Regions from separate parts of the Homo sapiens genome. Here region 1 is linked to region 2. The links come from fine-mapping of genetic effects on gene expression. A gene starts in region 2. The other region holds a variant in brackets. All regions are shown on one strand. Distances are from middle to middle.

The links. PIP is the estimated chance that this variant, and not a neighbour inherited with it, causes the effect.
Region 1: its variant is fine-mapped to the expression of UBE2Z in monocytes (Fairfax 2014, PIP 0.95).

The regions. Positions count from the first base shown.
Region 1 is chr17:48,932,454-48,940,453 of GRCh38, forward strand. SNF8 (SNF8 subunit of ESCRT-II) reads right to left here. Exons shown (of 8, transcript NM_007241.4): 4 at 4,567-4,671; 5 at 3,717-3,789; 6 at 752-893. Among named protein-coding and RNA genes, the nearest start is that of SNF8, 8.4 kb to the right of the region's middle. The variant CA/C (reference allele first, on the strand shown) is at 3,059.
Region 2 is chr17:48,903,422-48,911,916 of GRCh38, forward strand. It overlaps UBE2Z (ubiquitin conjugating enzyme E2 Z), which reads left to right and starts at 4,986. Exons shown (of 7, transcript NM_023079.5): 1 at 4,986-5,399; 2 at 7,387-7,459. The coding sequence starts at 5,083. It overlaps LOC105371814 (a long non-coding RNA gene), which reads right to left and starts at 5,562. Exons shown (of 4, transcript NR_135674.1): 1 at 5,518-5,562. RefSeq lists silencers at 5,125-5,374, 5,645-5,774 and enhancers at 6,648-6,697, 6,718-6,767.

The DNA of each region.
Region 1 (8,000 bases), 29 kb after region 2:
AAAGGAAACTGGGCCGGGTGCGGTGGCTCACCCCTGTAATCCCAGCACTTAGAGAGGCTAAGGTGGGTGGATCACCTGAGGTCGGGAGTTCGAGACCAAACTCAGGCCTGGCCAACATGGAGAAACCCCATCTCTACTAAAAATACAAAATTAGCTGGGCGTGGTGGCACACACCTGTAATCCCAGCTACTCGGGAGGCTGAGGCAGGAGAATCACTTGAACCCGGGAGGCTGACATTGTAGTGAGCTGAGATCACGCCATTGCACTCTGGCCTAGGCAACGAGTGAAACTCCATCTCAAAAATAATAAAACTGAACACATCTAAATACCTGATGGGGATTTGGGGGAAGATGGCATATGCTTAAGGCATGATGAGGGATGGGGGCATGGCAAACAAGATTTTTTAAAATCTGTTTTTGAAGAATCCATAAAGTAGTTTCAAAAGACATCAAAGAGTCTGGCTACCCAAAGAAATCTAGTTAGTTGTCTGCATGTCTGTCTACCTGACTAGACTGTAAGCTCCTTGAGAGCAGGAATTTTATCATCTTTATATGCCCCACAGCCTGGCCCAGTGCTTTGCACTGTAGCTGCTCAATAAATGTCTGCTGAACAAGCACAGGCCTGAGTAGTTCATCCACTGGATAGTCTCAGCAAAAGACCTGCATAATGGGGAGCACGAGCTGAGAACTGCTCCAGACTTGCCTCACAGACTGTCCCTTGCACACACACACACTCGAAGGTGCACCAGTACCTCTGCCAGCTGCAGCACCACGGTGTGATCCATATTGAGCTCAGCTGGAACAGACTGAATGAGGTAAGTGCCGCCCACAGGGATGATGCCGAAGCCAGTGCCAAGTGCCTTTAGTTTCTTGATGGCTCTGATCAGGTCATCTCTGAGGTAAGGAAGAGTTGCTTAACGACCCTTGGCAGAATCAGACCTAACAACACAGTTTCAGCTCTGCCCTGGGCAGGATACTGACAGAAAATTTAGAAGACTGCACAACTGCCAGGCGCAATGGCTCATACCCATAATCGCAACACTTTTGGGATGCCCACATTGAGAAGACTGCTTGAGCCCAGGGGTTAGAGACCAGCCTGGGCAACACAGCAAGACCTTATCTTTACTAAAAATAAAAAATTAGCAGGGCATGGTGGCAATCGCCTATAATCCTTGGGAGGCTGAGGCAGGAGGATCACTTGAGCCCAGGAGTTCAAGGCTGCAGTGAGCTGTGATTGTGCACCACTGTACTCCAGCCTGGGTGACAGAGCGAGACCCTGCCTCTAAAATAAAAGGCTGCACAACACTCAACTACGTCAGTAAAAAGACAGGGTCAAGGAGCAATAAGTGATGCTTGGACAATCATGGGAGATACACAGGAGTCAGGCTGTCTGCTCAGCGAACCACTCATTCCAACATCCAGACAGCGGTCAAAGATACACCTGCAGATGCCCATCAGGAAATGTGAATGAGTGAGCTGAAGAGGCAATGGGGGTAGTGTCACCTGTGGCAAACTAGAGAATGCTTATCTATTTTAAAGGGGGCAACCCAGCTGACTATTATTGCCAAGTGGCAATTCAAACCCAATACTGCCAAGTTTTCTGATTCTAATTGAAATCAGAGAAAAAGAAAACCTACAAAACAGTGTGTAGATCACATATCCAGCCCACATACAGAGTTTAAAACCTCTGCCAAAGCTCAAAAAATGTTATCACCCAAACAGCCAGGGAAAGGGCACTTTTAGGTAGATTGGAATGCATTCTCCAACCCCCAAAGAATAGCAAACTGAAATGCTTCAAATGCTCACCCTCTCTTCATGAAATCTGCAATGAGTATGGCTAGTAATCTTTTGTTATCACTTTCCTTTTTTTTTTTTTTAGGAGATGAGGTCTTGGCTGGGCGCGGTGGCTCACGCCTGTAATCCCAGCATTTTGGGAGGCCGAGAGTTCGAGACCAGCCTAGCCAACATGGTGAAACCCCATCTCCACTAAAAATACAAGAACTAGCAGGGCGCCAGTGGCAGGTACCTGTAATCCCAGCTACTCAGGAGGCTGAGGCAGAAGAATCATTTGAACCCAGGAGGCGGAGGTTGCAGTGAGCCGAGATTGTACCACTGCGCTCCAGCCTAGACAACAGAGCAAGAGTCCATTTCAAAAAACAAAAAAAAAAAGTAGAGATGACGTCTTGCTCTATATCCCAGGCTGGAGTGCAGTGGTGCAATCATAGCTCACTGCAGCCTAGAACAATGAGTGCATGCCTCAACACCCAACTAATTTTATTTTTTGTAGAGACAAGGTCTCACTACACTGCCCAGACTGGTCTCGAACTCCTGTCCTCAAGCGATCCTCCCACCTCAGCCTCCCAAAGGGCTAGGATTACAGGTGTAAGCTATTGCACCCAGCCTCGTTACTTTTCTTTGAATATTCTAGGTCTTCAAGATCTCATAGTAGGCTGACTCTTTGGAAGTTACATCAAAAACAGCCTTTTATCTTTTCTCAAACTGGACTCGCACATAGAGGCTGGAGAACTAGATCAATTTATATTCCATCATCTCACTACCACCTCCTTCCCCAGCCTTTCTAGGCACCTACACTACTCTCCTTGGCCTCAAATAATCTCACGACTATATACAGCCCTGGCCAGCCGTGGTGTCTCACACCTGTAATCCCAGCACTTTGGGAAGCTGAGGCAGGCAGATCACTTGAGGCCAGGAGTTCAAAACCAGCCTGGCCAACAACGTGAAACCCCATCACTACTAAAAATACAAAAATTAGCCAGGCGGCCAGGCGCGGTGGCAGACACCTGTAATCCCAGCACTTTGGGAGGCTGAGGCGGGTGGATCACGAGGTCAGGAGATCGAGACCATCCTGGCTAACACAGTGAAACCCCGTCTCTACTAAAAATACAAAAAATTAGCCGGGCGTGGTGGCGGGCGCCTGTAGTCCCAGCTACTCGGGAGGCTGAGGCAGGAGAATGGCGTGAACCCAGGAGGCAGAGCTTGCAGTGAGCAGAGATCACGCCACTGCACTCCAGCCTGGGCGACAGAGTGAGACTCTGTCT[CA/C]AAAAAAAAAAAAAAAAAATTAGCCGGGCATGGTGGTGCACACCTGTAATTCCAGTTACTGGGGAGACTGTGGCACGAGAATTGCTTGAACCCAGAAGGCAGAGGTTGCAGTGAGCTAAGATCGGGTCACTGCACTCCAGCCTGGGTGACAGCAAGACTCTTTCTCAAAGAAAAAAAAGACTATATATAGCCCCAAGTTTGTTAAAAAATAATACATGAAAAAATGCTTAGAAGGAACTACATTAAAATATATAGCAGTTGTAATCTCTTAATTGAGAAATAATGGTTTTTGTTTCCTTTTTTAAATCTATATTTTCTGTTTTCTAAAAATAGCCAGCCATACTGGCCCATGCCTATAATCCCAACTACTTGGGAGGCTGAGGTGGGAGGATTACTTGAGCCCAAGAGTTTGAGGCTGCAGTAAGCAATGATCTTGGTAGCAGTAAGCTGTGATCATGCCACTGTACTCCAGCCCGGGCAAAAGTGAGACCCTATCTCTTATTTTTTGTTTGTTTTTTGTTTTTTTTTTTCCTGTATGATATGGAGATCATACAGATTTCTAAGCTAGCCTAGACATGAGGAATAGGGAGAAAAGAGTTCCATCTGAATTTTAAAGACCTCTTTCTGTACTCCAAGGGATTGGAAGACAAGACCTACTGACTGACATCCTGGGCGAACTTGCCCCTTCCCTTCAACACCTGTTGATGTAGTTCCTCCAAAGTTATCAGACCTGTTTGGAGACAGGGAACAGAAATCAGAAAAAGAGATTACCCACTTTAAATAAGTTGACAGTCATTACAATTCCAGTGGCCTACAAGTAGCAAATAACATTCTAGTTCCTAATTTTTTTTTAACACTCTCCTTATGAAATAACTGACCATAATATGAGAAATGGATTCTGAGACCTTGCTAGGCCTGTCAACAGAGAGCTACGAAAATCTAAAAACAAAAGCAGTATCATCTTTGAAAAACTATAAATGTCCTCTTGACATCAAGGCCGTGTCTATTTATAGTTGATGATGATTTGTAAATGGTTTTAAGTTTTCTTTCTGTAACTTCAATCCACACCATTTAACGTGCTTACTAAGAAAGATGGCATCACCAGATGACAAATTTTAAGGTCACATTTTAGGGAACACAGACTCAGTTGGCATTCCCATACGTCGGAGAGACAGTGCAGGACTATAGTTACTAATGAGAAAATCACTCCAGACACATCAGACATCAGGGGAAAAGGCCTACTTCCTACCTCTCTACTATTTTCTGTACTGACTAGGGACTAGACCTTCCTGGCCAAAGATCTTTGGAGAACAGAGACAATCGTTCAGGTAATTCTATTTACCCTTGGCCATGGAGACTTGCCATGGATTCAACTGCATGAAACAGCTAAGATGTCTCTCAAGTCCTTAGAGGCCTGTAGACTGCAGGATGGAAACGATAATCTTTTACGGTTTTCTCCCTCTCAGAGAAGTCCAGAGTCCAGTTCACAGGACCTAGCCACCCTCACCTCCATTCCGATGCTTCAGCGCCAGGCACACTTCGATAATTTGGACACCTAGTTCGTAATAGAAGTCCCCCACGCCCAGCATCTCAGACCAAAATCCTTTTCCAGCTACAAGACAGAAAAACAAAATCTCGGTTATTGATTAATTTACATCCCTTCTTTTCTTTCAAACCTGCATTAAAACATCTATCATATGGGAAGTCTTCCCTGCATGGCATGAAGTTCTTCTGCTCCATCTGCTACTCAGGAAACAATCGGACTCACGGTAACTCCTGCTGAAGAACAGGGTCAGACGGCTCCAGAGGGCAGGCAATCTAAAAGTCATTTCTGGCCGGGCGCAGTGGCTCACGCCTGTAATTCCAACACTTTGGGACATCGAGCTAGGTGGATCGCTCGAGACCAAGAGTTCAAGACCAGCCTGGCCAACATGGCAAAACCCCATCTCTAATAATAATAATAATAAATTAGCCAGGAGTGGTGGCGTGCGCCTGTAATCCCAGCTACTTGGGAGGCTGAGGCAGGAGAATTGCTGGAACCCAGGAGGCAGAAGTTGCAGTGAGCCAAGATCGCGCCACCATACTCCAGCCTGGGCAATAAGAGCACAACTCTCTCTCAAAAAAAAAAAATACAGCCGGGGACAGTGGGTCACGCCTGTAATTCCAGCACTTTGGGAAGCCAAAGCTGGTGGATCACAAGGTCAAGAGATAGAGACCATCCTGGCCAATACAGTGAAACCCTGTCTCTACTAAAAATACAAAAATTAGCCGGGCGTGGTGGCGCGTGCCTGTAATCTCAGCTACTCAGGAGACTGAGGCAAGAGAATCGCTTGAACCCGGGAGGCAGAGGTTGCAGTGAGCCGGGATTACGCCACTGCACTCCAGCCTGGCAACAGAGTGAGACTCCGTTTCAAAAAAAATAAATAAATAAAAATAAATAAATAAAAATTTAAAAAATAAAACAAAAGTCATTTCTATTTGGCTAATTCTGGCTCAGGATACTGAAAAAACGAGTTTCCATTCACAAAGCATGCAGTGAAATATAATGGGAAATATGGTCTAGACAAGACTAAGAGAAAGAATATGCAGACTCAGCATTCAAAAATCCACTGAATGTTCTGTGAGTTACCAGGAGTGTAGAAATAAAAAATAAATAAATAAACAATCCACTGACGACAATATTCTATTCAGTGAAAAATGCAGGTTGGGCGCAGTGGCTCACGCCTGTAATCCCAGCACTTTGGGAGGCAGAGGCAGGCGGATCACCTGAGGTCAGGAGTTCGAGAACAGCCTGACCAACATGGAGACACCCCGTCTCTACTAAAAATACAAAATTGGCCAGGCATGGTGGTGGGCACCTGTAATCCCAACTACTTGGGAGGCTGAGGCAGGAGAATCGCTTGAACCTGGGTGGCGAAGGTTGCAGTGACCCAAGATCACGCCATTGCACTCCAGCCTGGGAATCAAGAGCAAAACTCCATCTCAAAAAAAAAAAAAAAAAGAAAACAAAAATGTAGGTTATAGAGCAGTAGTAATTATATTATAATCCCATATATGTTTACAAAGTTGGGGCCACGCCAGGAGCAGTGGCTCACGCCTGTAATCCCAGCACTTTGGGAGGTTGAGAGGGGCAGATCACGAGGTCAGGAGATCAAGACCATCCTGGCTAACATGCTGAAACCCTGTCTCTACTAATCATACAAAAAATTAGCCGGGCATGGTGGCACATGCCTATAGTCCCAGCTAGCTACTCAGGAGGCTGAGGCAGGAGAATCACTTGAACCCAGGAGGCGGAGGTTGCAGTTAACCAGGATCGCGCCATTGCACTCCAGCATGGGCAACAAGAGCGAGACTCCGTCTCAAAAAAAAAAAAAAGCAGTAAATTATATAGTGCAATGCCTGGCACACAAATAAATATCGTTTATGATTGTTATTCATTGTTTGAGATAAAATCAGTCATCTGTAGCCGGGCGCGGTAGCTCACACCTGTAATCCCAGTACTTTGGGAGGCCGAGGCGGGTGGATCACGAGGTCAGGAGTTCAAGACCAACCCGGCCAAGATGGTGAAACTCCGTCTCTACTAAAAATACAAAAAATTAGCCGGGCATGGTGGCACATGCCTATAGTCCCAGCTAGCTACTCAGGAGGCTGAGGCAGGAGAATCACTTGAACCCAGGAGAAGGAGGTTGCAGTGAGCCAAGAGTGTCACACCACAGTACTCCAGCATGGGCAACAGAGTGAGACTCTGTCTCAAGAAAAAAAAAAAAAAAAACACTGGGGCCAGGCACGGTGACTCATGCCTCTAGTCCCAGCTCCACTTGGGAGGTTGAGGCAGGAAAGTAACTTGAGCCCTGGAGTTGAAGGCTGCAGTGGGCTGATTGCACCAATGCACTCCAGCCTAGGTGACAGAAACCTCAATGCTAAAAAATAATAAATTAGTAATTTCTTTTTTTTTTTTTTTTGGGGGGATGGAGTCTCGCTCTGTTGCCTGGGCTGTTGTGCAGGGGCGCGACCTTGGCTCACTGCAACCTTCACCTCCCGGGTTCAAGTGATTTTCCTGCTTCAGCCTCCCGAGTAGCTGGGATTACAGGCATGTGCCACCATACCTGGCTAATTTTTTGTATTTTTAGTAGAGACAGGGTTTCACCGTGTTAGCCAGGATGGCCTCATCTCCTGACCTTATGATCTGCCCGCCTCAGCCTCACAAAGTGCTGGGATTACAGGCGTGAGCCACCGCGCCCGGTGAATAATTTTTTTTAAAGTTTATAAGTATGAGGAAGGGCTCAGTGCAGTGGCTCACATCTATAATCCCAGCACTCTGGAAGGCCAAGAAAGGCCGATCACTTGATCCCAAGAGTTGAAGACCAAACTGGGCAACATGGTGAAACCTCCTCTCTACAAAAAATACAAAAATTAGCCAGATTTGGTGGTGCAGGCCTGTAATCCCAGCTACTTGGGAGGCTGAAGCACAAGAATTGCTTCAACCTGGGAGGCAGAGGTTGCAGTGAGCCAAGATGGCACCACTGCACTCCAGCGTAGGTGACAGAGCAAGACTGTCTCAAAAAAAAAAAAAAAAAAAAATTTTTTTTTTAAACAAGGTCTTGCTGCAGCCTCAACTTCCCAGTCTCAAGCAATCCTCCCACCTTAGCCTCCCGAGTAGCTGGACTATAGACACATGCCACCACACCTGGCAAATTTTTATACTTTTTGTAGAGATGGAGTCTCGCCATGTTGCCCAGGCTGATCTTTAACTCCTGGATTCAAGTGATCTGCCTGCCTTGGCCTTGCAAAGTGCTGGGATTACAGGCATGAGCCATTGCACCTGGCCAAAATTAAATATTTTTTAATAAAGAGGGAAAATGCCATAAAAAATTCTACTGTAGATCATTCAAGGAATGATCACAGACACTGGCTACTCAGCCTATAGTCGGTCTATCTTCC
Region 2 (8,495 bases):
TAGGCTGCAAAAATAGGCTTCAAAGAAGGTAAGAGATGCAGATTAAAAACCTGAACCTCCATCTAAATCTAAGGTAAGGGTTTTCTGTTCATTGCCCCATCACTACCAGACCTTGTACTTGAAAATAATGGTCCAGTGGTGAGATACACTGAGGAATCCCCTCACCCCATGGGCCACCTCTGGGCCTTTGTATTCTGTAGCTATGGAGGAGCTATGGAATAGTGTTTTTCTTTGTATGAGGTTACCAAGCAAACTGACCTTTGACCACCTTACTGAATAAATAATAATCAAGCAAAATTCTGGAGTCCTTTTTTTTTTTTTTTTTTTTTTTGAGACATAGTCTCCCTCTGTTGCCCAGGCTGGAGTGCAGTGGCGTGTTACCTCCCGGGCTCAAGTGATTCTCCTGCCTCAGCCTCCCAAGTAGCTGGGATTACAGGTGCCCACCACCACGCCCAGCTAATTTTTGTATTTTTAGTAGAGATGGGGTTTCACCATGTTGGCCAGGCTGGTCTCAAACTCCTGACCTCAAGTGATCCGTGCACCTCAGCCTCCCAAAGTGCTGGGATTATAGGCATGCGCTTTGCAATCTCAGCTCACTGCAACCTCCACCTCCCGGGTTCAAGCAATTCTCCTGCTTCAGCCTCCCGAGTTGCTGGGACTACAGGCGCGTGCCACCACGCCCAGCTAATTTTTGTATTTTTAGTAGAGATGGGGTTTCACCATGTTGGCCAGGATGGTCTCGATCTCTTGACCTCATGATCCACCCACTTCAGCCTCCCAAAGTGCTGGGATTACAGGCATGAGCCACCGCACCCAGCTGGCAACCACTGTTAACATTTTCTTGGGTATCCTCTTTTTTTTTTTTTTTTTTTGAGACAGTCTCACTCTGTTGCCCAGGTTGGAGTGAAACAACACGATCTCAGCTCACTGCAACCTCTGCCTCCCAAGTTCAAGCAATTCTCCTGCCTCAGCAGGAGTAGCTGGGATTACAGGCGCCTGCTGCCATGACCAGCTAATTTTTGTATTTTTAGTTTAGACGAGGTTTCACCATGTTGGCTAGGCTGGTCTCGAACTCCTGACCTCAGGTGATCCACCTCAGCCTCCCAAAGTACTGGGAGTACAGGATGAGCCACCACTCCCGGCCTTGTGTATCCTTTTATAGATATTCTGGCATCTTTATTATGCTGATAAAACACTATACCAACAAAACGCAAAATCTGCATAAAATACTATATTGATTCATTTCATTTCATGTTGCGCCTAAGCTGTGCCATGCCCTGTGCTGGATTCACATATAATACATTGTCTAGAGCCCCAAGGGTGTACACGTTGTGTGCGTATGTGTGTTAAGAGGGGATGGGGATGCTTATACCTGTAATCCCAGCACTTGGGAGGCTGAGTGGGGTGGATCACTTGAGATTAGGAGTTCGAGACCAGCATGGCCAACAGGGCGAAACCCAGTCTCTATTAAAAATATAAAAAGCAGCTGGGCATGGTGGCCCACACTTTACAAAAACTTCTGGAAATGTCATAGTTAATCCTCTGGGAAACTTTGAGAGGTAGGAATTACTGAAAATACAAAATTAGCCGGACGTGGTGTAGTCCCAACTACTCAGGAGGCTGAGGCACAAGAATCCCTTGAAACTGGGAGGCAGGGTTGCAGTGAGCTGAGATCAGGCCACCGCACTCCAGTCTGGGTGACAGAGCAAGACTCCCTCTCACAGAAAAAAAAAAGGGGGGGGGGTGGGGGCAACAGGTACCAAGGGACCATAATTAGTACAAGGTAAAATATAAGTGTGGGAGTGTCACGTAGTGGTTAGCACTTGTTCTCAGAAGTCAGATTTGGTTTACAGTCCCAATTATGCGACTTGCTCTCAGCATGACCCCATGTAATTCACTGAACCTCTGTAAGTCTGTTTTTCCATCTATCAGACCAGATTAATAATAGTACCTAAGGCCAGGTGCGGTGGCTTACGCCTGTAATCCCAGCACTTTGGGAGGCCAAGGCGGATGGATCATAAGGTCAGGAGTTCAAGACCATCCTGGCTAACACAGTGAAACCCCATCTCTACAAAAAATATAAAAAATTAGCCAGGCGTGGTGGTGGGCGCCTGTAGTCCAGCTACTTGGGAGGCTAGGGCAGGAGAATGGTGTAAACCTTGGAGGTGGAGCTTGCAGTGAGCCGAGATCGCGCCACTGCACTCCAGCCTGGGCGACAGAGCAAGACTCCAAACCAAAAAAAAAATAAAAATAAATAAATAATAGTACCTACTACTTCACTGAGTGTTGAAAGGAATAAAGCCAAAGTATACAAAATGCCTGCCACATATTAAACACTCAATAAATGTCTGCTAAAAAAATAATTTTTTAGGCCAAGCACGGTGGCTGACGCCTGTAATCCCGAGCACTTTAGGAGGCCAAGGCGGAAGGACTGCTTGAGCCCAGAAGTTCGAGACCAACCTGGGCAACATGGTGAAACCTCGCTTCTACAGAAAAATACAAAAATTAGCCGGGCATCGTGGCACGTGTCTGTAATCCCAGCTACTTGGAGGGCTGAGGCAGAGGTTGCAGTGAGTTGTGATCCCATCACTGCACTCCAGTCTGGGTGACAGAGCAAGACCCTGTCTCAAAACAAATCAATCTTTAGCTCTCCATAAATCTTGGTCATTATCCTTCAGGTCTGCATTCCATTACTGTAAATTCATAAAACTCTAAAAGGCAGGAAGGGTGGGGTGGGTGGATGACTTCTGTAATCCCAGCACTTTGGGAGACCGAGAAGGGCGGATGACTTGATCCAACTCCAAAAGGAGTTGGAGACCTTCCTGGCCAACATGGTGAAACCTCGCCTCTACTAAAAAAATACAAAAAATTAGCCAGGCGTAGAGGCGCCTCTACTAAAAAAATACAAAAAATTAGCCAGGCATAGAGGCATGCTTGTAATCTCAGCTACTGGGGAGGCTGAGGCAGGAGAATTGTTTGAACCCAGGAGGCGGAGATTGCAGTGAGCCACGATTGCGCCATTGCACTCCAGCCTGCGTGACAAGAGCAAGATTCCCTCTTTAAAAACAAAAAACAAAAAACAAAAAAACTCTAAAGCCAGACTCTTTTTTTTGAGACGGAGTCTCACTCTTTTACCCAGGATGGAGTGCAGTGACTCAGTCTCGGCTCACTGCAACTTCTCCTTCCCGGGTTCAAGTGATTCTTCTGTCTCAGCCTCCTGAGTAGTTGGGACTACAGGCGCCTGCCAACACACCCGGCTAATTTTTGTATTTTTAGTAGAGACGGGGTTTCACCATATTGGTCAAGCTGGTCTCGAACTCCTTACCTCAGGTGATCCACCCACCTCGGCCTCCCAAATTGTTGGGATTACAGACGTGAGCCACCGTGCCCGGCCCAGACTTCTTTTTTAAAAAACCAAACTTGGTGGCAAAACATCCAAAGTGAGGCTATTCATTTGACTTGGTACGAATGTTCATACACTTTGATGCAGAAATGTCAATAGGTTTGGCTACCCGGCGCTGCCCCACTCCTTGCTTGGTGTGTCATTCCAAAGTCTGAAATACATCTGGCCCCACTGGTTTCCAGTTAATATTGATCCTATATTTTTGCTAGGGAAAAAAGTTTTTGTTTTTGTTTTGAGACGGAGTCTTGCTCTGTCGCCCAGGCTGGAGTGCAGTGGCACGATCTCCGCCCACTGCAAGCTCCGCCTCCCGGGTTCACGCCATTCTCCTGCCTCAGCCTTCCGAGTAGCTGGGACTACAGGCGCCCGCCACCACGCCCGGCTAATTTTTTGTATTTTTAGTAGAGACGGGGTTTCACAGTGTTAGCCAGGATGGTCTTGATCTCCTGACCTAGTGATCCGCCCGCCTCAGCCTCCCAAAGTGCTGGGATTACAGGCATGAGCCACCGCGCCCGGCAAGGAAAAACAGTTTTTTAGGAAGGCCCCTGTCATTCTTAGTCCATAGGAATTTTTTTTTTTTTTTTTGAGACGGAGTCTGGCTCTGTCGCCCAGGCTGGAGTGCAGTGGCGTGATCTCAACTCACTGCAAACTCCGCCTCCCGGGTTCAAGTGATCCACCTGCCTAAGCCTCCTGAGTAGCTGGGACTACAGGTGCACGCCACCACGCCCGGCTAATTTTTGTATTTTTAATAGAGGCGGGGTTTCACCATGTTAGGCTGGTCTCGAACTCCTAACCTCGTGATTCGCCCACCTCGGCCTCCCAAAGTGCTGGGATTACAGGCGTGAGCCACCGAGCCTGGCAGATTATTTTTCACTTTAAACATTTTAGGAAAGACCCAAAGAATCCTCAGGGTTTACACTCACAGTACCTCGATTCCTGTATATTCCAAGATTTGTGGGAAGAAAAAGTACTAAGCTTGGAGTCAGGAGGCCTGATGTTTCTTCCTTTCACCAAGCTTCTCTAGTTCTGTTTCATTATCCCCATGGCAACAACTAGCAACAGTGACTGGCATTTAGTAGGCCCTTCATAAATATATGTTGAATAAACTCTAAAAGAGGTAGCTTTTCATTCCAAGTTGAGTTCTCTCTTGGTCCTGTTGCAGGCAAGGGCAATGGTACCCTGCCCTAGGTGCACAAGTGTGCAGGAGGGATCAATCGCAGAGCCTTTCCGAGAGAAGGGGCCCAAAGCGAGTCAACTTCTCTACTGAGCTTCCCATGAGGATGCTGGATCCCCAATCCTAACCATGCAGACGTCTGAGGGTCGCCGCCATTAACGGGAATGATATGGCCCTTCCTCCCCCACTCCCTCCTCTCTTCTCCCCTTTCAACACTTGAATTGGGCTCTCCGCTACTTCCGCACAGCGCAGGACCCACACGAGCCCAGAACCATCACGGCCTGCTAGTTCCCACCCCTCCCGTCCTGGAGGACCGTAGGTGGACGCTCTTGCAGAGCGCCTCTCGCTGGTTGGGGCGGGGGTGGGCGGAGCCAGCACCGTCTGGGCTGTGGAAGCGGAGGGGGTGGGGACACTCTGGCCCGGTTCTCGGTGGTGCGGGAGCGGGCGGGAGCAGCGGCCGCTCTGGTCGGCGGACGTGCTGCCGAGTAGTCCCGGAAGCGAAGCAGCGATGGCGGAGAGTCCGACTGAGGAGGCGGCAACGGCGGGCGCCGGGGCGGCGGGCCCCGGGGCGAGCAGCGTTGCTGGTGTTGTTGGCGTTAGCGGCAGCGGCGGCGGGTTCGGGCCGCCTTTCCTGCCGGATGTGTGGGCGGCGGCGGCGGCAGCGGGCGGGGCCGGGGGCCCGGGGAGCGGCCTGGCTCCGCTGCCCGGGCTCCCGCCCTCAGCCGCTGCCCACGGGGCCGCGCTGCTTAGCCACTGGGACCCCACGCTCAGCTCCGACTGGGACGGCGAGCGCACCGCGCCGCAGTGTCTACTCCGGATCAAGCGGTGAGCCGGGGTTTTTCCTCCCCCAGCCCCGAGCTCCGGGGCTCGACCTTCCCCGCCCCCCACCCTCTCCCACTACAACTCACCCCCCACCCACTGCGCTGCCCTCGCGGCGGCCCACCTCCACGGCCCAAATCTTGCCAGCTCCGGGCGTCGGGATCCAACTCCCTTCTCCCCCCACCCTCAGACCCGCAAGCACCAACCCCCGCCTCGTGTGCCCAGATCCGACCCCGCCCCTCGACAACCTCCCGTGAGCCCTCCGTCTCCATTCCGGCCACCCTCCCCCACACCTCCCACCTCCGGGTGGAAACCCGACCCTTTAGCGCTTCAGTAACGCCCCCTCCCGCCTTCGGCGCCGCCCCTATTTCCCCTTCCCCACCCCAACCTTGCTAGATGCTGCCCGCAGGCCCCACCCATCGGTCCCCTCTCTTCTCCTCTGGAGCCCCGTTCCTAACACAGACGAACTCAGCTTCCTTTGCCATGCCTCTGACTCGAGCCAACCTTTCTTTTTATCCTCCGTTTTTCTCAGATTCCCTCCACACAGTCTTTTCCCAGGTCTAGATCGCTTCCCTCGCCCCAATCTTTCCTTGAACCCCTTTTCCAGTGTCCCAAAGCTGTCCACTCTTACGCCTCTTCCAGAAACACAGGCTACCTCCCCCCAATTCCCCAGTGCCACTCTGGATTGTAATATCCCACTCAGGAGCTTCTTTCTTGTAATTTCCCTCCCCCCACCCCCCACCCTCCCCGGGTCGTCTGTTTTACTTCTATGAAGCAAATATACTCATCAAATATAGGAACAAAGGCCTAAGTCCTTTCTGTGCTTATTTCTTGGGTGACTGATCTTAGATCCTATCATTTAGTAGATGATGTTTTCCAGAAGCACATAGAATAGTACCTATCGCATAAGAAAAGGGCAGTGCTCTTTAGCTATTAATCCTGAAACCTGTTTGACTTCTCCCCATGCCCCCATCACAAGCATCTTCGTTTAGTTCTTATTCCCCATGTTCCACGTCCTTTCAGATGTCTCTGTGTCTACTTTTCAAGGTTGTAATAAAAATTAATATAATGTGTGTAAAGTACCTGGCACAGTGCCTGACACAGGAGGTCAACTGTGGAGGGATTGCCACCTCTAACTGAAACTCAGCACTCAACTCTTTTCCTCCTCCAGCCATTTCAGTCATCCAATTCTGACATACCTTTGAGTTTGGCCAATGCTTTCCTCTGCTTTGTCGCCTATTTGCCCTTTTTATGTCCCTACCCACCCTAGCAAGTCCCTAGGCTTTTCGCCACCTAGAATGTTCTTTAGCCCCTTGCTCTCAACTGATCCATTCCAGTTGGTGAGATATGAGTCAGAAATCTTATCTCCTATGGAAGTCCACATGTCATCTTCCAGATGGGAGATTCTTAGCAATTTCTGAGGATCCCTCCCCAGCCTGAAGAGATCTCTACCCTGAGACACCCCTGGGCAAGAAGGCCACCATGATAGTCTTACTCTCTGCTGGCTGGCTTGCTTCATACAATCCCCTTACCAATAAAGGTCCACTGTATAGTTTATAGAATTAGTTTTTTAGTGGAGTTGATGATGCCTTTCCAGTTACTAAAAAATCTTCATTTAGCATTCAGTCGTAGTACCTGGGAATCATGGAGGTGGGGAGTGAATGAATTGCCATGTGGGAGGAAGTGAGAGTAAGTGGAAAGTGGCTTTTCCAGGCTGACATTTGATGCCATTGGGATCTCTGATTTTTTTCCTCTCTCCCTCCCCTCCCCCTGAGGAAACAATGCCCTTTTGATAATAATTTGCTCTCTGCCTGCCTGACAAGTACTCAGCTGAGATTTCTCAGCCAACAAGACAGTACAAACACTTGCGGTACCAAGCACCACTTTCTCAAACCCTGGCCTCATTGAGGTGATAACAACTGTCCTGCTCAAGGGATTCCCCCTTTCCCCCTCTTCCTCACTCCTTCCCCCACCTCCTCTTGGTGTTATACAGGGATATCATGTCCATTTATAAGGAGCCTCCTCCAGGAATGTTCGTTGTACCTGATACTGTTGACATGACTAAGGTATGTAACTTGATGGGGGTTTGGGGGGTTTTGGGAAATTGGGGGCCATAAGGTTGCAAAAGCCTAAAAGAGATTATTCAGCTCACCTCTCCGATTACACAGATGAAGAAATCAAGACCCCAGGAGAGTAAGTGGCTTGTCCAAGGTCACATAGTGAGGTGGAGCAGCACTTTGAAGAGGTGTCTGTTATTAGTGTACCCCATAGGTACTGATTGGCTTGGAAAATCCCAGTTCATGTCTGTTGTCGCAGCTTGACTATTTATAGGGCATTCTTTCACTCTCAAAAATGCTCCTGTTTGGATAATAAATTATATGGTCACCCTATCCATTGTACTACCCAGCTCTTCCCCCATCCCGTTACTCTTGACATTAACTATGCTATGGTACTATAAATCAGATGTAGGGAAGGTTGGGAATAGGGCAAGCTTGACTGAAGTGTTTGTGGTTAAAGGACTTTGCTCAGGATCCTGTCCTTACTGGTTGCGTTTAAGTATCCCTTCCACCCCAAAGACTATACCTCTCTTGTCCTCCTCTCAGAGAGAAAGCTTAATACATAATGTCACATTTCTCTGGCATAGATACCTAGGTTTCTCTGTCACTGAATGCTCTACCCACAGAAGTGCAGTTGCACTTAAACTGATGTTAGAAAGAAATCATATTTCCTAAACCTAATGCTGTTTAAGTGAAACACATAGTTTTCTTACAGTAAATTTCTTACAGTAAAAATTCAGATTTTGTATTGTTGGTGTATCTTTTTTTGTTGTTTTGAATAGATTTCCCTTCATATTTTTTTTTTATGTAGTTAGAAATGTTTTTCCTAGGACATCTCGTCCTCAGTCAAGTACCAGTGTTAATAGCCTAGTACCTGGGGTCCCAGAGTTGATGCCATGTTGAGACCAGTTGAGTTTACTATTCCAAATGACTGAGAGCCAGAATATGACGTAGGGTCTTGCCAGGAGGGCAAGGTGGGAACTATAGACTTAGGCATTGGATTGCCACGTCCCTTTCCTTTTGCTGTTCAAATGCTTAGCAGACC